2 linked regions of the Homo sapiens genome follow. The protein of the gene in region 2 purifies or fractionates together with the protein of the main gene of each other region. This does not show direct contact. Each region holds a gene or a part of one and is shown on either strand. Other genes may lie near its edges. The genes, in order: WDR75 and PLEK.

What was found.
Region 1: the proteins of PLEK (region 2) and WDR75 purify together in Homo sapiens (affinity purification with mass spectrometry; 2 studies listed by BioGRID and IntAct, with this or other methods). This does not show direct contact.

The regions. Positions count from the first base shown.
Region 1 is NC_000002.12:189,462,463-189,477,995, reverse strand, and holds the end of WDR75 (WD repeat-containing protein 75), read right to left. Parts: intron 15,513-15,533; coding exon 15,354-15,512; intron 14,303-15,353; coding exon 14,243-14,302; intron 14,151-14,242; coding exon 14,035-14,150; intron 12,918-14,034; coding exon 12,742-12,917; intron 11,572-12,741; coding exon 11,414-11,571; intron 10,529-11,413; coding exon 10,348-10,528; intron 9,522-10,347; coding exon 9,427-9,521; intron 8,653-9,426; coding exon 8,557-8,652; intron 7,921-8,556; coding exon 7,751-7,920; intron 7,178-7,750; coding exon 7,118-7,177; intron 3,811-7,117; coding exon 3,664-3,810; intron 3,280-3,663; coding exon 3,188-3,279; intron 2,784-3,187; coding exon 2,579-2,783; 3' UTR 2,444-2,578; downstream 1-2,443. UniProt on the Homo sapiens protein: Ribosome biogenesis factor. Part of the small subunit (SSU) processome, first precursor of the small eukaryotic ribosomal subunit.
Region 2 is NC_000002.12:68,367,943-68,383,475, reverse strand, and holds part of PLEK (pleckstrin), read right to left. Parts: intron 3,149-15,533; coding exon 2,993-3,148; intron 2,754-2,992; coding exon 2,572-2,753; intron 935-2,571; coding exon 843-934; intron 1-842. UniProt on the Homo sapiens protein: Major protein kinase C substrate of platelets.

The sequences.
Region 1 (15,533 bases), about 120 Mb from region 2:
AATACTGGAGCTCTGGTCGCCACTGCCCCAGCTTGCTTGTAGGCTACTGCCTCTGCTCAATTTGTAAAGCAGGGGTGTCACTCTTGAGAGAACTGGGCCTTTGTGCCTACTCATGGTTCTGGAGCAGTGGCTCAGAGATCTTGCCCAGGGGCAAGAGGCAGTCCATAAGAATACAGTTCTGACATAAGCCTCAAAAACAATGGGGATTTGGGTGGTAAGCAATTAAGAGGAGACTGGTAGCTCCATTAGAACAACAAGCTAAACCATAAACTAGCTAGTTTACCAGAAACAAAGAAAACAAGGAAAGAGACAGCTAAAATGGGTCCTCCTGGGATCAGAACAAACCTCAAAGGCTGGCCTCAAAAACTAACGCTGCATTTTGATGGCAGTGAAAATACTCGTGTAATACTATACTGATGGATACATATTATTATATGTTGCATAAACCCACAGAATTACACCAAGACTGAACACTAATTCAAATTAGACTTTGGGTGATTATGATGGGTTGAGGTAGGTTCTTCAAGTGTAACAAATGTACCACTCTGGTGCACCAGAGATGTTGATAATGGGGTAGGCTATTGCATGCGTTGGGGGAGAGGGTATATGGGAAATCTCCGTACTTTCAATTTTCTTGACCTAAAACTACCCTTAAAAAAATAGACTTAAAACAACAAAAGCACCCCTGAAAGGGATCTCAATTTTTTTTTAATTTCCACCTTCCATCCCACCACCAGTAGAAAGGGACTCAATTTAACGGATGACTGTGGAGCAATTTATGTGCCATAATGTAAATAATGTAAAATGCTGCAGCTGATATGTAAAATCTGGTGGTTCTTCAAAAGGTTAAACATAGTTACCAAATAACCCAGTAATTCCCCTCATAGGTATACTAACAAAAGTGAAAATAAAAAGGAATGAAGTACTGATATATCTACAACATGGATGCTGAATGAAAGCAGCCACTTACAAAAGATCACATATTGTATGAGTCCATTTACATGAAATGTCCAGAATAGGCAAATTTACAGAGATAGGATGAGTTGTTGCATTGTTGGTGAGGTGAAGGAGGCTGAGGGAAATGGCTAGTTTTGGGGTGATGAAAATGTTCTAAAATTGATTGTGGTGATGGTGTCCAAGACTGAACGTATTAAAACCCACTAAATTTTCCTCTTTAAATGCATGAATTGTATGGTTTGTGAGTTACATCTCAAATCTCAATGTAGCTTATTTTTAAAAAATGTAGCCAAGGTCGGAGGATCACTTGAGGCCAAAGAGTTTGAGACTAGCCTGGGTAACATAGCAAGACATCTCTACAAAAAATTTAAAAAATAGCCAGGTGTGGTGGTGAGTGCCTGTAGTCCCAGCCACTTACGAGTCCGAGGTGGGGGTTGGGGACTTGAAAAAAAAAAAGTTAAGATTTTACATAAATAGTGATTCAAAAACACTTTAAGTCTGTTTAGGATGCTACAGACCGGGTGGTTTATAAACAGAAACTTATGTCTCAGTTCCAGAAGTCGGAAAGTCTAACAAAAAGGCACCAGATTTGCTGTTTGGTGAGGCCCCACTTCATAGTTCACAGATGGTTTTCTTCTTGCTGTATCCCCACGTGTTAGAAGGGGCAAAGAAGCTCTCCAGTGTCTCTTTTGTAACAGCATTTATCCTATTCACAAAGGCTCCAGTCTCATGACCTAATCATCTCCCAAAGGCCCCATCTCCAAATACCACATTGAGGATTAGATTCCAACATTTGAATTTTAGGGGGGCACAACAAACATTTGGTCTACAGCACAAACTAAAAAGCCATTTGCAGCAATTTTTGTGAACATTCATTGAGATGTGCTCTTACAAACGCTTTGTTTTTGTGCTAACTTCTAAATATAAATTTTACAAAAGTGCATTAGGGAAGTGGAAAACTCAAAATGCTAGGTGGTTAAGATGTAGCAGCTTCACTGCTTTAACTAAAACAGGGGATCTGGATCGTTTTCTACTAGCAACTGGACTTTGGGTCAGATCATCTGAATTCAGAATTTTAGGCAGCCCATATTATTATATAATATCCTCAGTGAGGTTTGTGGAACACCACATAATCAACTCGTCTCTAAATTTCTCTGAGAGAAATAAATACACTAAGAGGAATAAATCAGGACTAAAGAAACCTCACTCCAGCTCAGGTCACATTTGGCCACCAAATGAATTTGTGTTAAAACAATTATGTCAACAAAGCCTTTTAACTTTCAAATCTTTTCGTATCTCCAAACTGCAGCTTAGGGGACATATGCTGTACAGTTCAAGTCTCAGTTCTGCTGTATCACCTGTGAAGAAAATACCTACTTGTTTTATAAGGCTGATGTGTGACTCAAAATAAAAAAATGAGATGATGTGGTATATCAATGATCCAGTAACTGTAAAGCATGATGCAAATACATGTTCATATTATCAGTTTTTTAAAAAAGCAAAGTTTGTTAATATTTATTATCTTATTTTTAGAACAGAAATAACATTAAAATAGATGTTTTTAGAATATCAACATACAATCAAAAACACAAAGTCCAAGGATCCTCCCCATCTCCAAGGCTTAAAGGGCAGCTATCCAGCTGTAGTCTATTTTCCTAAATTTTCTCAGTTCTTTTTCTTCAGATTTTGACAACTGATGTATAATGTCTTCTCCTAAACCTGTGTTACTTGTATCCTGGACTTTTTCGGTAAAATCATTTTCTTCATCTGAATCTTCACTTTCTTTTTCTTCTTCCATATCTACATCTTCAGGAATTTCCTTAGCACTTTAACAATAACAGAATAAAATATAAACACTATTAAATGTTTCTAAACAGTAACTTTCTAATTTGACACCTATGTAGAAATATAATCACACAAAGTAAATGAAGAATTTTGTTACTAAGTACACTTTAAAAATTATGGGTTATTTATAAAAGAGCAGGTGAATTTACAAACATGTAATTTTAAATTATGTACCAAGCCCTTAAAACACACACATACAAGATCTTTTTTGAAACTTATTTTCAATGTATGTTACTTGACTTAATAATCCTATAGCCTTTAAATCTATTTTAAAACTTATGAAATAAAAAGAAATACAGTGGAAGAATACTCTAAAAAAGGATAAACACAAACGATCCTGTTTCCCAAAAGAGAGTGTCCAAACCTGTCTTAAGAACTGCTTTACCTCTTAGTCTCTTTAGACAGCAGCAATGAATTTACAAACATGGAGCACAGGAAAGCAGCAGATGGCAGGACATGGGCTGGAGTGTGAAGAAGCTGGAGTCAAACAGAAAACACGGTTGCAATTAAAAAGCTTATCCTCCACCGCAGTCTGTTCCTACAGTGTCCTCACGGAGTCCCTTTTATTGTAAATGCCAAGAGTGAAACATGAAAAGGCTTTCCCTATACAAAAGCCAAACCAAAGAAAAATACATTTCTACCTTCCTACATTTATGCCAACAACCACCCCTATCCCTACACCAGGTCCAGGACAAAACAATCCCAGATCACAAGGTTAAGTTACTCGGTTTGTTGTTAGTTATTTAGTTTGGGTATTAAAGTTGTACAGCATACAAATTACAGATTGACTGTGTCAAAACTCCAACTTCAGGTGCTTTAAGTGCATTTAATCTGTTTCACATGGTTTTCATAATTACTTACCTCACTAATTGCGGGTATGTTTTCTGTTAAGGGTAGTTGTACCAGCTCATTCTCTAAAGTTTCGTTTAGTTTTTCATCCTGCTGTTGCCTGTGTTTTCCCAATATGAAATAAAATGGGGTTGTGGGAAGACTTTCTTCTGCTAGCAGCTTTAAGGATTTAAGACAAAGAGAAATTATTTCAGAAAAAAGGAAGAACTGTGTTTGACTTAACAGTAAGTACTACAGAATCATAAAAAGTCTGGGATGAAAGGAATTTTACAAATTATCCAGTTAGTATGATCCTCTCATTTCACAGAGAAAGCAACTGAGGCCTAGCATCCCACTTATGAGAAGAGCTAACAGTGAACACTTAGATGACAGAATAATACATGCATTTACCACTGCTTCTTCACCAAATCCCACAAAAATGACAGCAAAAGGGTTTTCAAAGGGCACATACTCACAATGATAGAAAATGAGGGAAAAGGCCTTAACAGTAACATGTTGGAAACTGGAGAGCAGGCTGAAGGATGGTATTGAACTTAGTAGACCTGAGAAAGCACAATTCTAAGCTGGCTGTAGGGAAAGCCAAGAAGCATCCCAATTCATACTACAGAATCCTGCAAATGCTCAGGAGTTGGTAATAATAGTAACTCTGGATGTGGGGTGAAAATGGGACTAGACAAACCAGACGGGCTGGTGGAAAGTCTACTTAGAAAGCACCCCACAGCTCCTCCTCAGCCCCAGCAGAGGGCTCTACATCTTTAGGCTAGGTATGGATAGCGGTGGTGGTGGTGGTGGTATCTTCATATCTAGGCAGTTGTACTTCATGTAGGGGGTTCTCAGAACACTGACAGGTAGGTCTAAATCCTTTAGGCAGGAACGCATAGAATTTTTTATGGTTAATTTGACCAGCCTAAGTAAGACCTAAAGATACAGCTAACCTTGGAATAACAAGGGTTCGAATAACACGTCTATGTGGAGTTTCTTCTATTTCTGCCAGACCTGAGATGGCAAGATCAACTCCTTCTCTTCCTTAGCCTACTCTATGTGAAGATGAGGATGAAGACCTTTGTGATGATCTATTTCCACTTAATGAATAAATATATTTTTCTCTTTCTTATAATTTTTTTTTTTGAGATGGAGTCTTGTTCTGTCACCCAGGCTGGAGTGCAGTGGTGTGACCTAGGCTCACTGCAACCGCCATCTCCCAGGTTCCAGTGATTCTCCTGCCTCAGCCCCCGAGTAGGTGGGATTACAGGCATGCACCACCATGCTTGGCTAATTTTTGTATTTTTAGTAGAGATGGGGTTTTGCCATGTTGGCCAGGCTGGTCTCGAACTCCTGACCTCAAGTGATCTACCTGCCTTGGCCTTCCAAAATGTGGGATTACAGGCAAGAACCACCGTGCCCGGCCTCCTTATGATATTTCTTAACTTTTTTTTTTCCTCTAGCATACTTTATTGTAAGAATACAGTATATAATACATATAATACAAATAACTGTTATCAGTAAGGCTTCAGGTTAAGTTTTGGGAAGTCAAAAGTTATACATAGGTTTTCAATCTCTACATTGTTCAAGGGTCAATTGTAATGACATTTGAGACTGTCTCAATAAATTAGCTCAGATAGTGGAAGCCAAGGGATAAGTTCTGCACAGGCAGAGAACTTCCAAGTGGCTTTTTAACCCACTTTTAAATCCAAAGACAGCCAAGAATCATCAGACTCTGATGAAAACCTCTAGATGAAAGGCAGCAACCAAGACAAACCAAAAACAAAAAAAAATGTAATGGAAACAGACCATGAAAAAGAAAAAAAGATTTGATGATAAAGATGAGGAAATCTTCCAGAAAACAAACAAAAAATAGGCAAAACAATAAGAATAATAGAGAACCATTCTAGAAAGTCCAGCACTAAATAATAGGAGTTCTAGAAAAAGAATAGAGAAAGAAGTAATTAGCTCCTCCTTAGTTCTCTACTCAAAACTCTCCAAGGGGCCCTATATGTAACTCAGAGAAAAAGTCAGAATCTTTTCAATAAGGCCTACGTAGACTTCCCTGTTTAAAATTACAAGCTGCATCCCATGCATGCCATCTTTTCGTCTATTCTCTACCCCACCACAATTCTTACCACCTTCTCTACTCCATATTTTACTTAATGCATGTTGTTTACTGTCTCTATCTTCTGGTGGACTGTGAATACCGCAAGTTTAGAGACTTGACTACTTTTCTCACTACTGTATCCCAACTGTCTACAATGGTCCCTGGCGTACAGTAAATAATTAACAAAAAATTATTGAATTAATCCAATGAGTTTTAAAGGAAAATAAACAAGCCAAGTTACAGACAAAGGAACAAGAACAAGAATGGTATTGGTCTTCTAGTAATAATGGAAATTATAAAATAATAGGACAATAATGTCAAAGTTCTGCGAGAATGATTTTCAACCTACAACTCTATAATAATCAAGTGAAAGAGAATAAAAACATTTCCAAACATGCAAGGTCTTAAATTGACCTCCAATGCACTAAAAGAATGCTTCACCAAAACAGGGGAGTGACCAAAGAAAGAGAAAAACCACACCACTAATAGAGTAGAGGTCAAACAAATCCCCAGAATGATGGTGAATATAGATCCTAGGATGACTACTGTGTAGCAGGTTTCCAGAGCAATCAGTCCAGACTGAAGACAGTCAGAAGGCTCTTGGAAATAATCCTTTATGACTTGAAAGAATACCTAATGTATCTGAAAACACTGAGAGAATACTTACACAACTTGAGCAGAATTTGGGGTTGAATTACATGAGAATAGAAAACTAAGCAAATGAAAAAACAAGGCAATCATTAACTCCACAGAAAATAAAAACTTGGTCACAAAAGGAAAAACAATCTGCCTATTACTACATGGCTTGGCTATGAATTGTGTTAACACAGCTATGACAATGACTACTGAACTAACCAATTTAACATTTACCCATATGGGGAAAATTGGGGGACAAGTAGGGAAAGTGTGTGTTGTGTATATGCAGGGAGTGCTGATGTGAAAAACAGCTAAAAATTCAGCGTCAATAGATCAGAGTTAACAGATAATACCTAAATCTGAAAAACCTATAATTAGAAATATAAACATTTCTTAGAGATTTCTTAGAGATTCAGAGTTAAATAAAAACTTCAGCTAAAAGATTTGAGAGTGATTGTCTTTGTGGGTAATGGTAGTGGTGTTGGAGAAGTTTTTTCTGAAGAGCCTTGTAAAAATATTTGACTCTTTAAATCAGAATTATATATTACTGATATTATAAATTAAAATAATTTTAAAAGAGCACTAAAACTTTCAAGAGACACATATCAGTTTATAAGTATATGGCTTTTAATTCTATTTTAGGGCCAAGTGAAATATTTTTTTCATAGTTGACTTCTAAAAGGTAATTGTATCCTTTTAGGGAGGCAATACATCCTGCTATGAATGGCTAAAACATACCTGTTTGCTTGTTGGTGTGAGTTTTTCTTCTGGAGACTTTGTACTGAATGTCAATAAACTCTGAAAAGAGAGAATTAATGATGCAAAAGACAAACTGTAGAGTGCAAATCTAAACAAGGTGTTACAGGGTGTTAAAAAATGAGAAGGTCAAATTTTTCACTTTGATATATATATTTGACAACAGAAAAGGAATAAAAGATTTAAACCTATTTAATAACCACGATGAGAGTTACAAGATTATGTCTGAGAGATACTTAAGAAATGGTAATGAATAAAAAATATAACTGACAGACAAAACTCAAGCCACCATTTTAAAAATTGCAAATCAAACACTGAAAAAAAAAAGAAAAAGAAAAAAGAATCATGCAATTTAAAGTATTTTAGTTGTCTTCTGCTTTTTTGCTGTCACAGAGTTAATACAAGCAATACCTAAGGAACCTCAAAAGTGTGGGGTAAAACGGTAATACATTTACATTAATAATGCTGCTGTACTGAGCATATTAGACAATTTTTTGGGAAATAATCCTTTAATGAAGCTGTTTCACCTAGAAACAAACTCACACCAATAGTCATGGGCTATTAGTCTAAAATTCCATGTACAAAGTGATCGCCTTTTTTGAGGGAGGCAGTTACCTGTGATTTTGTTAGGAAGTAAAACTGGGATCTATTTAGCCACTGGTAAGCTTCTGAGGTGAAGGATTCAGGGACATCTCGTGGAACAAACACTCCCCACTGGACTTTCTCTCTGGAGATACCCTTTTGAATATACAATGGCCTTGGCTCACTAGGTTTAAATACAAACACTAGAGGGAAAAAACAAAGAAACAATAACATTTTGCCTGAAAAGGTTAGTTCTAGCCTCAGACTGGCAGATCACACTAATCCTGGGACTCACCCCATTGAGTAACTGGCCCAAGTCATGACTGTTTTAGGCTTTGATTCAAGAGGTATCTACTGTGTTCCTACTATGGGCCAGGCAGGTTAGGAATGAGGGCTATGAGGATGAAAAACAGAAAGAAGAATTCGTGCTCCAGAGGCCAGGGCCCACTGCAGAAGACAGAAACCAAAATATTATTACAGTAGTATTTTGTCTGTAAGTACTAGAAATGAGATATGTAGAAACTGCTTCAAGAACATAGAGGATGACCAATTAAAGCTTCTCAGGGGCAGTTGGAAATATGTCAAACTGGTGAAATCTCTTGAATTTTAAAGATTGAGTACGAATTGGCTTGTGGAAAAATAAGAAACATATTGGAGCTCTCCTAGAACTAAGTATGGACGCACACAATGACAAAGTGTTGGGGCAAAGAAGGGCCGTGCCTCAAGCAAAATGGCTTCCAATTAACATCTGATGTGAAGGCAAGTTTGGCTCAAATTATATTAAGAAGAAAACTTAGGTCATAGATGTTCTCTTACTACAAAGTGTGGTTTGTACTTACAGTCTGAACCCACTGAAGACTGAGAGATTGCAGCAATATTCTCTGAATTAGGATCGGGTTCCATAACTCTAACATTTAATTTTGCATTCCACTCCACTGAGGGGAAAAACAAAGGTGATTCACTTCTAAGGAAAGATTTACCAAAAGCTTTAAAAAACTTCTCTTATTCTTAGGAAGAGGAATCTTATGCTTCCAACTAACACACATGGAGACACACTGAAATGATTTGTAGAATGCTGCACTAAAGTGAGAGGCCGAAAGAAAAACATACTGGAACTGTAGTGCTCCTTGTACAAACTATGAAAAGATTATTATTTCATTGAAATTTATGTCTAGTGCTTTTCTGATGCTGCTAAATGTGTACAGTATGTTAACCAGAGTTAACTGTAAAGAATACTGAAAAAAGTTACCATACACATTCATTTATAAGCAGCTACTATGCCTTCCAAACATACACTCAAATGGGTAAAATGCCACTAAGTTCACATTTGTTAGGACTGTGATAGACTACATTTGAATTTAAGCTGTCAGGGATAATGTAGATTAGTAAGTATTAAAAATGAGCAGAAAACATTATTCAAATTGTTACGAGGATGGGGAATATGGAGGGCATCAGAAAGTCACACACACTGAAAACAGTAGAAAAAGGTAAGGATAATGGAAGCTGACGTACCAACAATTAAGCAGTTAATAAATAATGTCTATTACAGGCCCAGTATTCCAAATTTTGGTGGCATCATATGTCACGTAAAAAACTGACTATTCCAAGTACAGACCTGATGATATGATCCCTAAGTCCTAAAATGCCAAAGTTTAATGTCAACTCCTTATGCGCTTTGCCAGATCACTTTAGAGTAAAAAATATCTTACATGCACAGCTCAGCAGATTCCAACAGCAAAGAATGCCATTTTCAGTAGCACCAAGTAGATACTTTGAACACGTCAATCTCCCAAAGCAAAGGTGCCTAGATTAAAACCACAAGGAAGTTAGCAACAGTCAGTTCTAGCAAATTCAGTTACAAAGAACTGCAGGCTTCCAGCGGCTGTTCTATGTAATGCAGATTTTTATATAGACATATATATTTTTGTTTATAATTATCCTGAAGAAAAAAGTGTCTAAGGAGTACAAAAGGAAGGGTCTAGTTAGCTATTTCTTTAGGAAAACAGAACGGATGACCAATTCTTTAACACACTGTGCGGTATACCAATTTACATCTAACAGAGAAAATGTACATGAAACGTACAGTCATCTGACAAAAATCCTATTTACCAAGAAGAAGAAAACTTGCGATTTCAATTGTGAAGAAAGTTTTACAAAGTAAATTCAGAATCAGACATGCTGGGAATTAGAGACGATCTCATTAGGCATCTGATTCTGTCCTCAGGCCCAACTACCTGAAGCAGGACCTGAAAATGCTGCTGCTACTTTCCCCTGCACCTCTCGGAAACAATGAGGTTGGCGCATAACACGGTTTTTATGGGAATACACAGAAAATAAGAAGGTTTGGATCCCCTGAGGCTTATGTATAGCTTCTGTTACCATTCAGCACATCCATGAAAGTATTCCAAAGAAAAAATATGTAGGCCAAGAGTTAAATGTTAACCTGAATTTCAGAAATGTTGGCACAGTTTGTGGACTCAGAATTTTTGGCTTTCCAGCATTTTGATTAGCTGCTTGCCCCACTGACCTTCAGGCTACTTTTGGAGAGGGCATAAATGACTACTAAAGTTTTAAGACTTGTTTAAATAAGTTAAAAAATAGTACTACATACTTCCCGAAGATTTACCTACCTTATTTTCCCAGCTCGTTGGCAAAATGTACATTTAAGTTCCCATGTTACAGAATCCCATATTGTGACTATTTCCTCAAAACTAACTGCTAGTAAAGAACCATCTTCGGAGAAACAACAGTTAGTTGCTTGATACTTGTGATAACTACCAACAAAGTCACAGGTCCAGCCAACAGCTTTTTCTGTGGAAATATAAGCCATAATGTTCAGAAATTGTGTAAATGCTAGAGAATGCTACAGTAGTTCCCCCTAGTTTCCCATTATCTGAGGGTTCACTTTCTGTGGTTTCAGTTCCTAGGGGTCAACTGAGGTCTGAAAATAGCTGTGTACAGTACAAAAAGATATTTTGAAAGAGAGAGAAAGGCAGACACAGAGCATGCACATATTCACTTTTTATTACAGTATATTATTGTAATCATTCTATTATTAGTTATTAACCTCTTACTGTGCCTAATTTATAAATTAAACTTTATCTCAGGTATGTATGTATAGGAAAAAAACAGTATATACAGGGTTCGGTACTATCTGCAGTTTCAGGCATCAACTGGGGCGGGGGGGTCTTGGATTGTATCCCCCACTGTTAAAGGGAGACTGCTAAATGAGGGACATTATAAGCAGTAGGGATTAAGAAACAAAGATGCACACACAAATAACAAATAAAATAAAAAAGAAACAAAGACACAAAACAAGAAAACCTGTTCCCCACAACTTCTTTAAGTCAGAACTGCTACAAAATACTGACTGTTCTGAAATTTATGCCCTCTCCTGGAGACCTTGACCTCCCTCTAGTGGAGGAGTGAAAGGACTCTTGGTAAAAGCCCCTTTTACTTTACCCTAAAAAAACAGAATAATCAGCACATGATTAATCAAGAATGCCATTTAAAAAGAACAGATTTGAGGAAAAAGGCATGTAAAATGTAATCTCTTAAATCTATTAAGATTAAGCAATATCCTGTAGAATTCAATAAAGTAGAAAATGTCCTCCCAGGATGGATACAAGTCATGAGAAAAAGAAATTAATTCCTAAAATTGTGCACACTTTAAACATAACATATTTAATAACTTACTGTATATGTCAGAGTCATCTGTTAATATCCATACTTTGAAGTAACCATCTTTGCTAGCTGTAACCAAGGTGGGCTGTTCAGATTTTTCTGCATTACAGAAACAGAGAGCTGTAATGCAGTCTTCGTGTGGCATGTTAATTTTAGTGTTAAGAATAAACCTAGCGGGAAGGAAACCACAAATTTATTCTTGCATGAGGACAAAGTGATGTATATAAGAATTTCTGACATGCTGTACATTTTACAATAGCATCTTGAACAACAGGCAACTGATAATCACGTAGAATGACAAACAATTGAGTGCTCTACCTCTAATGGCCACAGGACGCAAAGAGTTCTAATATATCACCTTTGCCCTTGTGTGACTTTAGAGAACATTCTGTGTAGTAGTCAACCCACTAGTACATTGGTACAAAATGAGGATAATACAGGTCACCAATCAATGATACTCAAAAGCCTACTGTATCAAACTCTGTAGGAAACTTGTATAGAACCCAGATTCCTGCCTACTTTTGAAAATAAAAAATGGAAAGGCCGTGAAACGCCCCACCTGGGGCAAGGAAAAATAGACAGGAAACTACTTAGTCAAACTGGCTGGTCATTATTTACTATTTTTAGTCACCTAAATGACTTCTTAAAGCTTATTTCGAGCTTAGAGGGCAACGCTGTGAATGAAAGACAACTAGGACTGTGTTCTTAAAAGAACATCAAGGCAGCATAGGATTGTGATTTTAAAAAAGCACAAGTTATAACAACAGTGACTAGGGACAACCACTTAATCTCTCTGGGCCTGTTTCTTCACCTATAAAATATAGACAACAGGCTTATCTTACAGTGTTCTTTTGAAGAGTAAGATAATGGGTACAAAGCTCTAAGCCAAGTTCTTGGCACACAGCAAAGATCTGTTAAGTGGTTATTATAGCCACAGTACGAGAGTGGATTCCTTATCTAATCACAACATCCATGCTACATTATACTATGCTACACTTCTACCTACACTCCCTCTTTTCAAAAGGCAGTATGCTGTTAACGGAAGAGCAAGGGAACATTTGGATTCTAACCCTGGATTTGCCTAGAATTCGGTATTATGCCCTTGAGGAGGTGTCACTTTTCCATGTTTCTTTATTCATTATGAGATGACATTATGACTTAGAGGACATCAATGTCTTCTCAGAGCAGAAAGCTTAAAGGTTTTATTAGAATAAAACCTCTCCCATATCTCTAAATCTAAACCTTGTCAAGATGAAACATCTTAAAGACAATTGAAACTGTAAAATGGGAAGTGAAATATTTTATACTTTGAAATTAAGTGGCTACACAGATAGTATTACCCTTGTGTTTTCTTATTATACATCCACAGTTTCATTTGCAATTCAAGCTCAGTTTCCTTTTCTTGCCGCTGTTCCACTGTTGCAAGCCAGTTACCAAAGCAGCCAAATGCAGCCTTTGTTAGTTCAATTTGGATCAGACCATAATCATTAATATATTCTTGCTGTATAATATCTAACTGATGAGTAAAAAAAACCAAAAAACCAAAATGTTTATTAACATAAATACACAAATGTTACAGCATTCAAGAAATGATAATTAACTACATCCAAGACAACTTCTGTACTGTATAGTAATAGATTTTTAAATAAAGGCAAAAATGAACTAATTGTTACTATGGACACCAAAATTGCCATTAAAAAAGGGAACACATTATAATAGTATCAATTTGGTGGTAATTATTCTTCAATGACCTTGAATATTAGCGATTACTAACACCCACTATATGATACAACAGAACCGTTAATTTATAGTAGTGCTTTTCTTTTGTTTCTAAGAACAAACAGCTTTACATCATCTCAAGGCTAGATTCTCTGTCAACAGAAACAAGCAGAACAGAAATAAACCTACAATCTTTAAGAAATGAAAAAAGATAGCCAATGTAAGTAGGCCAGCATTTATTTATGGTTGTTTTAAAAAAAATCCCATTTCCTTGCCTATACTAAGTAAATAAAATGCCTACTATTAAGTGTACTAAATGCCTACAATTTACAGGCATTATACTTGAGATAAGCATAAAATGATTAATATGCTTCCTTTTTTTTGAGGGGTCTAAAGGCCACGGTGAGAAAGAGCTAGTGTCACAGTTGCTATGACAGAGATCTGTAAAGAGTACTGTGGGGAACAAGAAAAGTGGGACATCTGGATTGGACTTATCAGGATTGGAAGAAGTGTTCCTCTTTAATCTACACTGAAAATTTTATCTTCAATATGTGAATATGATAGTGTTTCACCACGAAGCAGATACAAATTTGTACTGTCAATCTACCTATTTTTGTTTCTTTATCCTTGTGACTCAAAAGCACAGATGTATGGGATAGCTAATAGGAGGGCATTCTGAAACAAAAGACAGAGACAGCACGTACAGGAGTGCCAACTGGCTTACATGTAACCTGCAACTGTGGCCTCAATGGAATTATGCTCTGAACAACTGAACTAAGTAACCACGGATAATACTATGTTCAAGTAAACATATGCACAGGATCTTGTTTTAAAAGCTACTAAACAAATTGCTTGACTCCAGTGGTACTGTAAAGAGCTTTCATTAATTTCAAGGCTAATGATCAAAATCTTACATTGTATAACTGTTTATCACTCTGGAGAGAATAAAACTGCAGGTGGCCAGGTTTTCCATTCAAAACCAAAGCTTTAGTTCTTGGATCAATCATCAAACCAGTGAAGATACTCCTATCTGCAGAAGTGGTGACAAATAACAGGTGAAATAAGAGAAATATGCACTCTTTAAAATGTTCATGATTCCAAATCCACTGAGTTCTGCAATACCTTTCACTAGGCCTTGAATTACTGCGGATGCTTCAAGGTTTCGGTGAATAATTATTATCTCTGTGGGTAGAAAAAAATAGGTATTTAAATATCAATAGGTTAGAGAAAGCTTGTCCAACCTGTGGCTCAGGGTGGCTTTTTATGCAGCCTAACACAAATTCATAAACTTTCTGAAAACATTATTATTATTATTATTTTTAGCTCATCAGCTATCATTAGTGTTAGTATATTTTATGTCTGGCCCAAGACAATTCTTTTTCCAATGTGGCTCAGGGAAGCCAAAAGATTGGACACCCCTGGGTTAGAGCTTCAAGGTGAAGGAGTCACCTGAGTTTATATTCTGAAATATACCAGAATACAAAACAACCCAGTAAGTTCAATGAACTCAGAGTACTACTAGAAAATCAGGAATACATTTTGTGAGTTAGTGGAAAATCTAGGGGTGGGGATAGGGGCTTTTCTGTTGGAGTCTTTAAGTTTTTATCAGTTGTGCCTATGAACACATTTTAAGTGTTAATGCAAAATCTATAGAGTATATCTAATAAAAATAGTTTAACTTTTTCATGCCACTAAATGGACTGCTCACAGTTATGTTCTTTTTTGAAAGAAAAGGAAGTGGATTTACAAAGATATCCTAGTCTAGGCTGAGTAGTCACTGGATGAACAAAGTTTTGGAGAAATATAAGACTGCCTCTATTTCTATCAAATCTACAGGACTCTTGCCCCCAGGTAACAGCTGTATCAAAAGAGAATCTTGCAGTATTCTTTTGAAAACGGAAGGTTTATGAAAGCACCAATGTCCACTTCCAAACCTTCCCTTTATTTCCTCATGTCATCCCACACTAAAAGACTTTGAAAATGTAAGTGGCACATCAATAACCAAATACACTTAGCCTTCCATTTTATAAAAATAATTCTCAAAAATGTTGAATTCTGGTGGTGCCTAGGGGTAGAGAGGGGTGGAAAAGAGAGGAGTAATGCAAGGAAAAGAAGGCTCATTAAATCTCATACGCTACTCTTAGTTTTAGGTCTCTTTATTCTCTGTTCCCTACAGATGCTAGCTAATTTATGGTGTTTATATATTTCCTCATAATAAAAAATTTAGACTTACTATTATCAGAGTGAGAAGTGCAGAATAAATCTCCTGCAGGCGAGACTGAGATATGTTCAATAGTAGCTCCTAAACGCGGGAGAAACTCCTTATTCTTCTCTGTTGCATCGCGCCACTCTACAAGTACAGATTCACGACCGCCACTCAGCAGACTGGTGCCTTCATATCCATTCAAGGAAA
Region 2 (15,533 bases):
GCCCTGGCTCCTCATTAAAAATCCTCCTGTAAATATTTAATGAAATTCTACCCATCTTTCAGGGTCAAATTTGGGTACCACCTCCTATTCATCCCATCAACCCCTGAGTTCTTTCTCTTTTTTTGAACCCCTGGAATTGGTTGTACAGACATGTGACCACTTAAAACACAATAACCACTTGAGCTTGCACCATATAGCACTGAGTGTGTGCCAGGCACTACTCTACACACATAATGGCAAGCCTATGAGGTAGGTGCACTGTGATTATCCCCACTAAATAGACAGAGAAAGTGAAGCACAGAGAGGCTAAGTTATTGAGCCAAGGTTTTATAACTAGTAAGTTGCAGAGCCAGAATTTGAACCAAGGTGGTCTGGCTCTAAAGGACATGTTTTTAACCACTACACCATACTACCTAAACTCATAACACTTAATACCTGACCCTGTGCAGCCTCTGATAGCCCTAATATTGTCATTTAAAACTTACATTGTATGCCTTAATCCCTGTTTATTGTAGTAAGGGTTGCATCTTATCCAATTCTGTGTCTATTTCTAGCAAGTCTCAACATAATGCCATTTATTGAGAAAAAAAATCCTTTGATTGGAACGTTAGCTTGAACAAATGTTAACTTGAACAAATAAAGCTTGAACAAAATCGTTAGCTTGAACAACAAACTTCTTTCTATTTTCACTCTGTAGGAGCTTCATCCTCAGGCTCACCAGGCTGCATTCTGGGACCCCTTCCAACCCCCATACTTCATACCCCCACCTCACAGACGAGGCCGAAGGAGGACTCCATATCGCCTTCCCAGTCGCCCTATTTCAGGCCTGCAAGTGCTTTTACCTGTGAAGCAGTGATTAAAAATCTTCTTGTCCTTCTCTAGATTCAGTTCTTTTATTCCTTTTTCAGTGTCTTTCATGGACAAATATAAGGCACTGCACAGAGATAAAAAAGCAAACAAACAAACAAACAAAAAAAAACCCAGTTGGATGAGTGGGGAACATTTCAGAATGGTAAGTTCTCTCTGGGAGGTGAGCACAAGCTCCCCCACCCCAGGTATCCCCTGAGCTTAATCTCCCTCCATCAGATCATAAGTAGTGGAGGGGCAACATTCATATCTGCATAACTCTGTAGCCTGCACAGCGTTTAGCAATGCTGGAAGGTACTTAACGTCTCCTAAATTCTCTTAAATTCATTCAGCTGTTTGTTGATTTAATTATTGGTTCCTGGGATGGAAATTTGCCCCAATTTAGAGGTCAAAGATGAAAGGTTCCTAGGGTCCATTTTCTACACATTCTACATCTTTAATGTCCCTCAATCCTCATATCCCAATTCTTTAATGCTCTTCAAGGGACCATCTGTGGTAGACATTGGCCTTTAAGAAAGTGAATGCTTCCACTAAGCATATGTCTTATCTTTAAAATGATGAGATATAAGGCAAAATGGTGAGAAGTTCTCATTTTTGTCCTTGAAGTAATACATCAAAGATAGCCTTACGAGAGAAGCTCTAAGCAACAAAACAGAAGGCCCCTTCCATGTAGCCTGTGGCTCCCTATAGCCCGAGCATTTTTCCCACTTAGTTCTGACAGCACTGGCCAGGACTGTGGTCACTCGATGGCCCCCATCAGCAGCTGCAGCTGCACTAGGTGCCTCGTTGGAGCTCTTTGCCAAAAAGCTTTTGTGGTGAAGGAGGCTGCTGAGTCTCACTCAGCTCAGTTCACAAACTTTGTCAAACTCCTGTGCCATGCCAAGTCTTGTGTCGTCATGCAGAAGTGCAGAAGGGATGTCTTTAGGCTCCTCTCAGTGCTTCTCCCCACCCCACCCTCCATAAAAACAAAATTCTTGTTGGACATTTTAAGCAGCTGGCATGGGATTCTTCTCAACAGGGCTCCTGCTTCAGGGAATGCTCAACAAAAAAGCAAAACTACCAAGAAGAAAGTGACTCCTAGAGAAAGGGGCTCATGTGACCAAAGATGTGAGATACTCAGGAAGGAAGAAATCCCATTCCCAACCTCTGTCAGGAGCTAGATCTTCCTGTTGGCCTCTGACCACCTTTAGTCTACAACTATCACCTGCAATTCCAAGCCAACCAACATCAGCGGCCATTAAACTGGGTCAGGACATAAATGGCTTCCACCAGGATGGGTGTTTACCCTGGCTGGCCCTTCCTGAGTGTGTAAATGAATGAACTTGAACTTGAAACCTTGCTTGCTTGGATGCATAGCCCCTGCTTTTTCCTTTCTACCTAAAGATCCTAAAGCTTTATTTCAAGACTGACTTATTATGGCTATGTTATAAATGCAATGATGATGTTTCTTTCTCTCTCTCTCTCTCTCTCTCTCTGGTACCCAGTATGAGGGAATTTGTACTCCATTCGCCTCCTCTCCTCAGCTAGTAGGCCTTGGATCACTCCTTCAGACCCAGGTAAACATTTTAGTACACCAAGTGCCAGTATTGACCTGGCAGAGTGGATACAACATCAGAGGTGGTCAAAGCAAGCCTTGGAGCAGGATCTGCTATGTTTGTGTCTTTCAGAAGGAATGGGTAAAGAGAAGTAAACACAGAAAATCACCCTAAGTCAATGGTTTCTGGCAGTCGAATGGACCTCCTGGTAGATTTCCTGGCAAATTTCTGGCCTCCTTCAATGCATTTAATGGCCTTCTTGATATCCCGAACCCAGGCATCTCTCTCCTCCAGGAAGGCTGCCTGGAAGAAGTGGTCCTGCTGTTTGGTCGTAGTGATCTTAAACACAAACTGAAAATCAAAACACATCCCATTAGAAATGGCTTATTTCAAGGGCTTGGGGCCCCTCATGAAGCAGAGGCCATTGGCCTAAACCTCTTCTAGCCAAGAGAAACCCAAATGCCAGGGTGGGGTGTGGGTGGTGGTGAGAGGGACCAGCCCAAGGAGCACCACCCACATTGTAGGCAATGCTTGCACCAAAAGTTGAGTGCCTGACCAGGGGTTCACGGCAGCTCATGATGTCAACTTACCATCCTTTTGCCAAAGTCTTGACAAGGGCTAGTCAGAGTGCTCCCTTTCAGCGGGATCATTCCTTTGGGGCTGTTGTCACTTTTCTTCTTATAGAATTCAATTCCATCTTCTAACAATACAACCCACATGGGTTTCCACGTATTGAACACGCTCCCCTGTAATGACAACCAAAAGAGCTGAGATGGACAGGGCTCTTTGCAAACTGTATTTTCCTCCTAACAGGAAAGATTCTATATTTACTTACAGTTGGTTTTTAAAATGTTTGGTGACATCATCTCTGTTCCTTCAACACAAATCCTCTCAAATCAGTGGCTACTTGGGGAGCCATTCTCATTTCTACTCCCGGCTCTTTGCTCAAGCCAACCCCATTCTCTGGAATACTCCTCCCCAACTCTGCCCTCTCCTCTTTCTCACCTTGCCTAACCTCTCCATATCCTTCAAGGCTCAGCTTAGCCACCTCATTGATGAGGCTTCCCGAACTGCACAGACCCACCGTGATCTCAGGGGTGCCTCCTGCTTTTCTCACTGATTGTGCCATACAACCTGGAACTTTGTTATATATTTCCTCATGTAGTTCTTTAATTGTCTTCAGTATGGTTATCTTTCCTTCTCCATGGCAATTACATTATCAGGTACTTTCCTTGGTTCATGATACTGAGCACACAGGGGATGTTCATTAAAATAATACAAAAGAAGATCATTTCCCAAACTGCCAAATGCTAGCAGCTATCACACTTCATTGAAAAGAGCAACCAATCCTTCTTATTATCTACTTCATCCCCACCCAAACCCTTTCCTGCTATGATTTCCCCTGCACCTCCCTTTTCATGTCGGGTTCACACCATTAAGAACCACAAAGGACCCACCTCACAGAAACATTCTCACCCCCGCTATGTGTAAGAACTGCCGGCAGATCTTGCTTCTGAAACTACATCTGACACATGATCTTAGAGTATAGTTCTTTCTTTTTTTGAAGTCTTTATTTATTTTTACATGTTTAATTGCCTATTTTGAGGAGAAAAATACAAAAATGATAATTATTGGTGTTCGGTTGGAAGGGTTTTCATTTTTCAGGGTTTTAGAACATTTCAATTCTTGGGAGGGTTAGTCAGAATTGGAGAAAGAATTAAATATTCTAAAGCCTAGTGGTTTTCAAAATATGGCCTGCAAACCAACTAATCTGACTCACTGAAGACACATATAAATAAAAGCTGGTTTTACCCCAAATCTGCCTTCACTTACAAGCTCTGGTAACACTGCTGAGATGGTTGGCTGAATCTTAGATGATCTAGCTCAAGCACTCTCTCTCTGTCTCTTTTTTTAAATTTTATTTTTATTTTTATTTTTTTGAGACAGGTTCTCCCTCTGTCACCCAGGCTGGAGTGCAATTGCATGATCTCAGCTCACTGCAAGCTCCGCCTGTCAGGTTCAAGCAATTCTCCCACCTCAGCCTCCCAGGTAGCTGGGATTACAGGTGTGCACAACCACACCCAGCTAATATTTATGTTATTTTTTTCAGTAAAGACGGGGTTTCACCGTGTTGGCCAGGCTGGTCTTGAACTCCTGATCTCGTGTTCCTTCTGCCTCAGCCTCCCAGAGTGCTGGGATTACAGGTGTGAGCCATCGCGCCCAGCTGGTTCTATGACTTTCTTACTGCCCACACTTGTGTAAGCCACTTGCCCTCTCTAAGGCTCAGTTCCCAGCACTAAAATGATAAGAATGACTACCTCAGAGATTTCTAGAACATATGAAATGAAATAATTTGGATAAGATTTTATAAGTTCGAATGTGCTCTACAAATGAGAGGTTGTATTATTAAGTATCTTGACAGATGGCCATGTATGAATGTCTTCCATGCTTTGAGTTTTCATCCTCTCTATTCTTGGAAAAATGACAATGAACTGGTATCAGTATCATCCCAATGAGGAAGAGTCAAAAATATTTAGCCAGTTGCCATGTGGAGTAATGAATGGGAAAGCTGAAGGCCCTGAGGATCTGCATGAATGTATTTGTGAGGAAACACACTTCCCTTTGGTTTCTCTTCTGGTGGAATAAGGTTTGGGATTGTGAAGAATCCGGCCTGCCTCAGACTTGCAGGCCTCCTCCATTATTGTATGACATGTCATCCAATGATGCTTGAAGTATTTAGGATACTTCAGTGTATGCTATGATTTGGGGTCAAAACTCGAACCTACATTTGAGCCTCATGTCAACCACTTATTAGTTGTACATGTCTTTGGGTAAAATGTTTAATATTTCTGAGCCATGGCTTTTTGTTTGCTAAGAGAGAGATAATAATTCCATCTTAAAGCATAGTTTAGATTTAGATCATGTATAAAATATGTATATATAAGTGTATAATGCATGCCATATGCTTATATGTGAATAATGTACATATACATTATACAGTGTATATATCTTTAAATACATATGTATACACATGTTTTATATATAAAGTGTGTAAAATCACTCTGTCAACTATTGCCACCCAACTATATGTTCCAGGGGGGCAAGAACTTACTTCACCATCATATTGTCAGGTGTTCAATCAATAATTTGTGGAATGAACGGTGGTAATTAAAATCACATTATGACTGTAAGAAAATATTGGGGAAAATCTACAAGACATTGGTCTGGCCAAAAATTTCTTGAGCAATACCCTATAAGCACAGACAACCAAAGCAAAAATAAGCAAATGTGATCACATCAAGGTAAAAAGCTTTTGCACAGCAAAGGAAACAGGCAACGAAGTGAAGAGACAACCCACAGAATGACAGAAAATATTTGCAAACTACCCATCTGACAAAGGATTGATAGCCAGAATATATCAGGAGCTCAGACAACTCTAGAGGAAAAAAATCTAATAAACCATTCAAAAAATGGTCAAAATATTTGAATAGACATGTCTCAAAGGCAGACATACAAATGGCAAGTGTGCATATGAAAAGGTGCTCAACATCACTGATCATCAGAGAAATGCAAATCAAAACTACAATGAGATAACAGCTCATCTCAGTCAAAATGGCTTTTAACCAAAAAACAGGCAATAAGAAATGTTTTTGAGGATGTGGAGAAAAGGCAATACTTGTACACTGTTGGTGGGAATGTAAATTAGTACAAACACTATGAAGAACAGTTTGGAGGTTCCTCAAAAAACTAAAAACAGAACTACGATTTGACCCAGCAATCTCACTGGGGGGTATATACTGTAAAGAAAGGAAATCGGTATATGGATGAGATATCTGCACTCCCATGTTGGTTGCAGCACTGTTCACAATAGACAAGATTTGGAAGCAACCTAAGTGTCCCTCAACAGATGAGTGGATAAAGAAAGTGTAGTACATATACACAATGGAGGGCTACTTTGCCATAAAAAAGAAGGTCCTGTCATTTGCAACAACATGGATGGACCCGAAGATCATTATGTTGAGTGAAATGAGCCAGGCACAGAAAGACAGACATCACATGTTCTCACATATCTGTGAGATCTAAAAATCAAAACAACTGAACTCATGGACACAGAGAGTAGAAGGATGGTTACCAGAGGCCAGGAAGGGAAGTGGGGGACTGCAGGGAGGTGGGGATGGTTAATGGGTACCAAAAACAAGAAAACAGAAAGAATAAATGAGACCTATGATTTCATAGCACAACAGTGTGACTATTGCCAACTTAATTGTATATTTTAAAATAACTAAAAGAGCGTAATTGGATTGTTTGTAACACAAAGGATAAATGCTTAGTGGGGATGGATACCCCATTCTCCATGGTGTTATTATTACTCATTGCATGCCTGTATCAAAACATCTCATGTACCCTATAAATACATATACCTACTATGCACCCACAAAAATTTAAATTTTAAAAATTAAAAATTAAAAATAAGATCACATTATTAATAGATAAGACTGAATAAATAAGACATAATGAAATGATTAACATAAGAATAGACACAATAAGTGTGACAATATTTCCTAAAATGATCCTATAGACCTCTGCAGGACAATATGTAACTCAGCTTTGGCCAGTGTGGAGGCAGGTGGTCCACATTTGCACAAGGCTGCGCAGGAAGGATGCCTTCAGGGGAAAGGAGGACTGTCATTCTACTGGAATTTTTTTTAATTAAGATAAAATGTATATACAGTGACAGTCAACCCATAAGCTCCCCTGGTACATTTCAGGCTGACTTTATGTGGTTTGTTTTCTGCTCCCAAACCTGCCCATTGAGTTCAGTTCAACTCAAGAATGGCAAGTAGAATCTATCTCAAGTGTCAATTCAGACTGAGTAGTAGTGGATGCTTGAGGCTGGACTCAGTGGAAAAGTGTTGTGATCCAACAGCCGTGTCTCCCATAGACAAAGCAGTCATAAGTGGTGGCATGCACCCTGCAGTTGCTTCCATCTCTTGGGCTAATCAGATTTTATCTGAATATGAATGTCAAAAAGAAACTCAGACAGCAGCCTTGTGTGCAGGCATGGCTAAGTTGTATGAAAATCACTTGCAAAAGGTCTATAATGCCAGAATGAGGCTATCCACATTAATGTAGCCCTTAAAAAAATCCTTACTTAAAATGTTTTCAGTTTGGGTTCATGCCAGCTGCCCCTTTAGCAATAAGTTGACCATTCTGATTAAAACAGGGAAGTCTCTATTTCTGGTCTATATTTTGGAAGAATTTGGCAAAGGTCTATTCTTTAACCCATGATATCACCCTGTCATGACTACCACAAAATAGAATTATCATCCAGTTCCCAAGAGACCCTGCTGCTTATCTCAAAATACAAAGGGCCTCTATATAAAGGTCCAGTTGACCAAAAGGAAGACTATTTATGCAAAGATAAATACTTGTGGGACTATCACTTTGCTTGTCCAAACATTTCCTTTGTTCTAGTTACTAAAATAATTTTCTAAATTAAAATACCCTATCTCTTTTCTGCATGGGCAGAATAACTATTCCAGACGAACACTGGATTATTTCCCCTTTTAAAAATGAGCAAGATCAGACACTGTGCCAACACATGAAATAATTCCAGTAAAATGCCTTTCTGTTTTACAACTGAAACATATCTAGAATACAAAGAACTCCTGCAAATCAATAAGAAAAGTACAAATAATCCTATTTTTAAATGAGCAAAAAGTATCGAGCAGGCACTTTAGTAAAGAAAACATCCAAATGCTTATGAAAAAGTGTTCAACATCATTATTTATCAGGAAAATGCAGATTCAAATCACAATGAGATACCTCTACACACCTGCTAGAGTACCTAGCATTTTCAAAGTCAGAGAAGAATAAGACTTGACAAGGAGGTAGAATAACTGGAAGTACCAAACATAGCTGGCAGGAGTGCAGAATATCACATCCAGTGCAGAAAAAATATCTGGTGGTTTTATGCTAAAGCTAAACACATATATGTCCTTTGCACCAGCAATTTCACTCCTGGGCAAAGATCTGAGAGAAATGAATGCATATTGTCATAAAGGTTTCATCAAGAATGTTCATGACACCTTTATTCATCATAGCCAGAAACAAAGACTAACCCAAATGCCCATCAACAGGAGAAGGAATAAGTAAACTGTATAATATAATATATAAATCCATTATTAACACAGTAAATGTATACTATGGAAAACAACCTAGCAATTTTTAAAAAATGAACCGCTAGTACCTGGAACATTATAAATAAATCTCATAGATGTTGAGTGAAAAGCAAACAGGCAAAACATGTGCTTAGAGTATGATTACATTCATATGACGTTCAACAACAGGCATAGCTTATGAGAAAATATTACAATAATGGTTACCGACGATGGGAGTATAGACTAGGAAGGGAACAATGGAACTTTATAGCATACTAGAAATGTCTCTGTCTTTATCTGTGTGTTGATTACATGAGGTATAGGTATGTAAAAAATTATGACACCCTTCATGTACCTTATTGTAAGTTATCCTTCAATTAAAAAACAAAGTTGTTAACTCCAGGTCCTGTTAGTTAACTCCATGGAGGGGTATACAGTGATTATAGTAACACCACCCTTCAAGTTGCTTCTATAGAAGGAAACTATTCCACATTAGTTACTTCTCTCACTTAATCACTGGAAAAACAGCATATTCATGCAATGAATTGTCCTCGATTGAATCATGGATTCTTTTCAAAGCCGCTATGCAGAATATTATTGAGTGATCTGGCATCATTTGAATGTAAAAGGTGTATTAGATAAGGTCATTTTATTAGTAATAAATTTCTTAGATGTGATAATGGCATTGTGATTATATAGGAAAATGTCCTTTTTCTTGGAAGATGTATGTTGAAGTATTTTGGAGTGAGGTAGCGTGATGTCTGCAAATTACTCTCAACTATCTCAACCTAATATGATATGTGTGTTTATTTATACAGAAATTCAGAGATAGGGAGAGACAAAGCAAATGTGCCCATCCATTATCAATTGATTAATCTAGGTAAAGGCTATATGAATAATGGTACTAGTTTCCTCATTTTTCTGTGGGCTTAACTTTTAAAATAACTTGGGAAAATTATTAAATGAATGAGTAACATATGACTCTGCTATGTATTAAAATTTAGAATATACTTTTAGTGAAATACATAGACAAATCTATTTAATAAAAAATTTTAAAAATACCTGGAAATAAGAAAAGAAAGACATGTTCTCAGAGCTAGAAATGAAAAGTTGCACTAGATGATTGCCAGAATCCCTTTTAAACCTAACATTTAATATTCAACCTCAGGAATAGCTGAGATTATTAACTGCCATCATCACTCAGGGCTTTTGACTTTGAAATTGGGATGCATCAGTAGCGATAAGCTGGCATTGCATGCCTTCAGTAGACAAAGCCTCTGGAGCCAACTGTCCAATATGAGTTTGTGCTTTTCTTTTTTTTTTTTTATTTTCTTTATTATACTTTAAGTTTTAGGGTACATGTGCACAACGTGAAGGTTAGTTACCTATGTATACACGTGCCATGTTGGGATAGCATTAGGAGATATACCTAATGTTAAATGACGAGTTAATGGGTGCAGCACAACAACATGGCACATGTATACATATGTAACTAACCTTCACGTTGTGCTTTTCTAAATCAAGTGCAGCCTCCGGGGTCTGACTCTGAGGAGGATGTGTCATTTGGGATTCAGGGTCATTATGCACAATGAAGAGGCTGATACTTTATGAAACAAGAGAAATCTGACCACTTACAAAGCTTAAACATCCTTCCAGGCCTGATAGTGCTGAGTTAGGTCAGGATGATGGAATTTGAGGAGGTTTTTCTCTCCTCTTCACCACTACTGCAGCTACCAGTTTCTCACTCGGGTAACCTGGCAGCACCTCTCCTTGACCATTCCTAAATTTTTCCTTTTCTGGCCCCAACCCACTTGATGCTCACCCAAGAGCAAACCTGGAAGTGTGATTATGGAATGTCCAAATGACAGAGAAATTTAGGATCATCTACCAACACTGTCACCATATTGATAAAAAAAAGTGGAGGCCCAGTTAAGTGATTGGCCTACCACATCTGAACAATTAATGTTAAGTGATTGGCCTAGTACATCTGACCAGTTAATGTAGAATCCATGTCTCCTGATTCTCAATTTTATGTTTTTTCCCTTCCCCTCAGATGTCATTTTCATTTTGGTTCTTGTATAACACTGAGTCATTCTGGAATCTGTATCGATTTCTTTAGACCACTTAGCTAGCTATTTCACTTCAATGGAGATATATATACACACACACACATATATATCCATATGCTGTGTGTATGTGTGTCTGTGTGTGTGTGTGCATGTGTGTGTGTAGCATATATGTGTTTTCACCCATTATATGCCAAAACCTGTACATGTCCACAATGGGATGCTGAGTCAGATTTGAAGTTTTCTGGTAAATACCTGTTCATCATCATGGGACTGGTATAATTTAGCACCTAAGAGTCTGACATTGCATGACATCAAAAGAAGAAATCATAAAGAACGGCAGATTTGACCATATTAAAAATAAACTTCTCGGCTGGGCGCAGTGGCTCATGCCTGTAATCCCAGCACTTTAAGAGGCTGAGGTGGGTGGATCACTTGAGGCCAGGAGTTTGAGACCAGCCTGGCCAACATGATGAAAGCCAGTCTCTACTAAAAATATACAAAAATTAGCTGGGTGTGGTGATGCACACCTACGGTCCCAGCTACTTGGGAGGCTGAGGCAGGAGAATCACTTGAACCCAAGAGGTGGAGATTGCAGTGAGCCTAGATCACACCACTGCACTCCAGCCTGGGCAACAGAGCAAGACTTCATCTCAAGAAAAAAAAAAATGAACTTCTCTATATTTAAAAAACTGCAACAACTGAAAAGCAAATGAAAATGCATAGATATTTGTATCATCATATGATTAAAAATTAATATCCTTAATTCTTTAAACACTTTAGAACCAATAAGAAATATATCAACACTCCCAATTTTTTAAATGAGCAAATAATATAAATAAGCAATTCTCAAACGAATAAAAGCTGGGTCCAATAAAACATAATTGATTGCTTCAACTGCAATCAAAGAAATGCAAATTGAAATTAAATAAGATACAGCCTTTCTCTTTAATAATATTTTGTAAAGACTTATAAGGTGTGGGAAATGAGCATGTGGGAAAAAAGGAGCTCTATGAGTCAGCAATTTGATGTGGGCTGTCAAAAAAAAACTAAACTCGTTGTGGTTGTATACAGAGAAGTGTAAGATCGAAAGCAAGGAAAATGATAATTCTGTCTTTAAACGAAGCATAGCCTGCAGGTGACCATGGGCTCTGGAGCTGGATGGCTCAGGCTCAAATCCCAACTCTGCCACTTTCTAGTAATGTGGCCTTGAGAAAGTTTTTAAACTTCATTCTCTCCTTCTGGCAAGCAGATATGATGATATCTACTTCTCAGCTTTGTTGGGAGATGAAAACAATCCATGTAAATTGCTTAAATCAGTAATTGGCATATAGTAATCACTCATTAAATAGTACCTATTCCTTACAGTTCTATGCTTATCAGGTGCTCCTGGAGAACTATACTAAGTTCAAGTGACCTCAAAGCTGCAGGTAAACCAGAGCCTGTTCAAAGCAGAACACCAAGATGGTATCATCTCTCTAACTGTTGGAGGAACTAACTAGGTTTTAGCCCATAAAGGAACAGGTAGAGCAGGTGTGAATGCCTGGATTGTTTTGAGGTCCCAGCCGGTGGAGGTTTCAGGAAAACAGTTTTCTGCATAACTTAAGGGAGAAAATGTAATTAGTGAGTTCCCTAACAAGAGAAGTATTCAAGCATGCTTGTTAACAGATGAATAAAAGAAATGCAAGCTGCAGATGAGAAGCTGTATTAAATCTGTAACATCTCTTTCTACCCTGAGATCCTACACATCTATTCCAAGGTGCCTGCTGTCCCTCTTTTCCCCCTTTAGTCTTCTATTTCCAGGTGTCCCTGCTAACCCTTGGGCTTGCTTGAAAGCCAAAAAATAATAATAAATCTTTGAAATATATTCTACATGATCATCTAAAAATGACTACCCCCGTTGAAATTACTTTTTCTTAAGACTTAAGAAGTTACTTTGGTCTCTATGAAGTCTATTTTAGGCAAGTTTCTTTATTTGGGACACGTTCATTCAACAAATAATGATAGAATGGCTCCTATGCTTTCAACACTGGCCTGGTTGTTGGGATGTAAAATTAAGCAACTCTGAGCGCAGTACTCACACCTGTAATCCTAGCACTTTGGGAGGCCAAGGCGGGTGGATCACTTGAGGTTAAGAGTTCAAGACAAGCCTGGCCAACATGGTGAAACCCCATCTCTTCTAAAAATATAAAAATTAGCTGGGCTTGGTGGCACATGCCTGTAGTCCCAGTTACTTGGGAGGCTGATGTAAGAGAATCACTTGAACCCTGGAGGTGGAGGTTACAGTGAGCCAAGATTGTACCATTCCACTCCAGCCAAGACTACAGAGCAATACTCTGTCTCAAAATACATAAATAAATAAAATAAAAATAAAAACAAAAATAAACAAGACCCTATCTCTGCTCTCGAATAGTTCACAATCTCACATGGGAGAGAGTGACCTCCAGGTCAGTGTGATGAATGCACAAATTGAGGTGTGCCTTCTTGTGTACACCCAGCATCACAGAAAGAAGCTACAACCAATGGCTGAGGGTTGGGGCAATCGGATATTTGTGTTTAGAACCCCTCTCAGACACTCCCTACAAAGTGAAGGCATCTCTTTTAACTTCCCCTTTCCCTCAAATTTCTCTTTTCACATACAATGTATGGCTGGAATTCAAAGGAAAATTACACTGTGATCAAAACTGCATATCTAAAGCAGAACTGTCAGTTACTATTATCTATTCTTGCACACCCATGGGACATGTTATTTTAAGTTGATGCTGCATTCAATTAAGCCCTTATGTTGGCTACAACATAAATCACATCATCTAGTTTTCCAATCTGATCCATCAAATCACTGACATAACATCCCAAACAAATGGTTGTGTTGTGCCTATACAAACTCACTGAAGGCAAAGGAACTAGTCTATTCAGTAGCATATTTTTTACATAAGTGAACTCTTCCAGGTTGGAAAATTTATCAGTGAAAACATATTAAATAAGTAATACAGAAATGGCACAGAGAGTGCTTAACAGCATGACTTCTGGAGCCTTAGATTTAAATTCAGATCTCAATTTTGCCTCTTCCAGGCTCTGTAACCTTAGGTAACTTATTTAATTTTTCCAAGCATGAGTCTCCTCACCTGTAAAATGAAGGTAACAAAGCACCTGTTTCACATTGTGGTGAAGATTAAATGAGATAATATACATAAAGCATTCACCACAGTGGCCAGCATGTAGTATACATTTGAAAAATGGCGACCATAGAAACAGGTAAAAGTACGGTTTTGGGGGCGGAGGTTGCAGTGAGCCGAGATCGTACCATTGCACTCCAGCCTGGGCAACAAGAGCAAAACTCCATCTCAAAAAAAAAAAAAAAAAAGAGTACGGTTTTGTAGGCAACACTGTGGAGTCGCTCTGGCATAATGTTCCCCTGGGTACCCCTCATCATGGTGACAGTGCTTTGGAAAAGAATGTCACTGCAGTACGAGCCCACGAGGGCCACATAGAAAGTGGTTAGGCTCTGCGTGATACTGGGGCCACACTGCTGGGTTGCAAACCAGCTCTGCCACTTATTAACTGTGTGACTTTGGACAAGGCCATTTGCCTCTCTGTACTTCAATCTCCTTATCTGTTAAGTAAGGATAATAATTGTCCCCATTTTGTTGAGTTGTCTTAAGTATGCTGTATAAATGCATTAAGGCATGAAATGCTTGGAACTGTTCCTGCTTCAGGGTAAACACCACATGCGTTAGCTGTTACAGTGATGATGAATCAGTAGGCACAAATCGCTTCAGATTATTTCATGCTGCCTAGAAGACAAGGTAGATCCAGGAAAGAACTCCTGGGCCAGGACCCTGACTCTCGGGCTCTCTTCCACTTCTACCACAGCTTTCTGCAGCCCTTTCCTTTCCTGTCCCTGCTGCTTGCCCTTCCCTTTCCCATCACCCTGATTCCTATGCTTTCTCCCAGCCTCAAAGGACATCCAAATCCCTCAGCCACTTTCTGAGTCAGCGCTGCTGCGCCAAGTGCTTGTGAGGTTGGTTGTCCTGGAAACAACAGCTTGCTCCATAAACCTCTAGGAATTAGGCTGGTTTGAGACATGACTTGGAGGAGTCTAGGTTATGCAGAGCATATAATTTGCTCTTCTCTCATTTTTTCCAGTTATGATGATGAACATATCTAATTCAGTAGTAGGTATTCGAGTACCTTCCAAACATGTTTATTGGCCAGAAAGAAACCCCCTAAACAGAGAGGAAAGGAGGCTGAGGTTTTTAAACTTAATCTTGCCCACAAAACAATTTGTTCGTGCCTTGCTCTGGCTCTAGTGAGTTCTTTTGCAGGCCAGGGCAAGCCTGCCTTTCAGAATGCTGCCTGGGATCAATGAGATGGTAGGCTTTGCTGTTAGGCAGGCCGGGATTTGAATCCCAGGTCATCCTCTTGCCACATGTTTCACTGTGGACGAATCACTTATTCTCTGTGAACCTCAGTTTTCTTATCTGTAAGATGAGGATCACATAGGGTGGTTAGGATTAAATGAAGTCATGTTCGTATAGCAGCTTGCTGCTCCATGGTTGGCTAGAAGTGCTCTTTTTTAAAACAAAAAAGTAAGGTGAAAGACTCTGAGGCAAAGAGACATGGGTGTTACTTGGAATGAAAAAGCTGGAAAATGACAGAATCTTGTATTTTCCCTCCCCCTCTTAACCACTGTCTTCATTTGGAGATCTTATTCAGGAGGCAAAAGAGGAAACCTGGATTGTGAAATGTCAACAGTCATCTTGCACAGAAGAAAAGCAGAAACGTTTTACAGTTAACACTATTGACCCCAAGATTTCTGACCTGACAAAATTCCTGCACCAGCATTTTCTAATGCTATATTTTTTCCACCCAAAACAACTTATCTGCAATAAAATTATTTCATA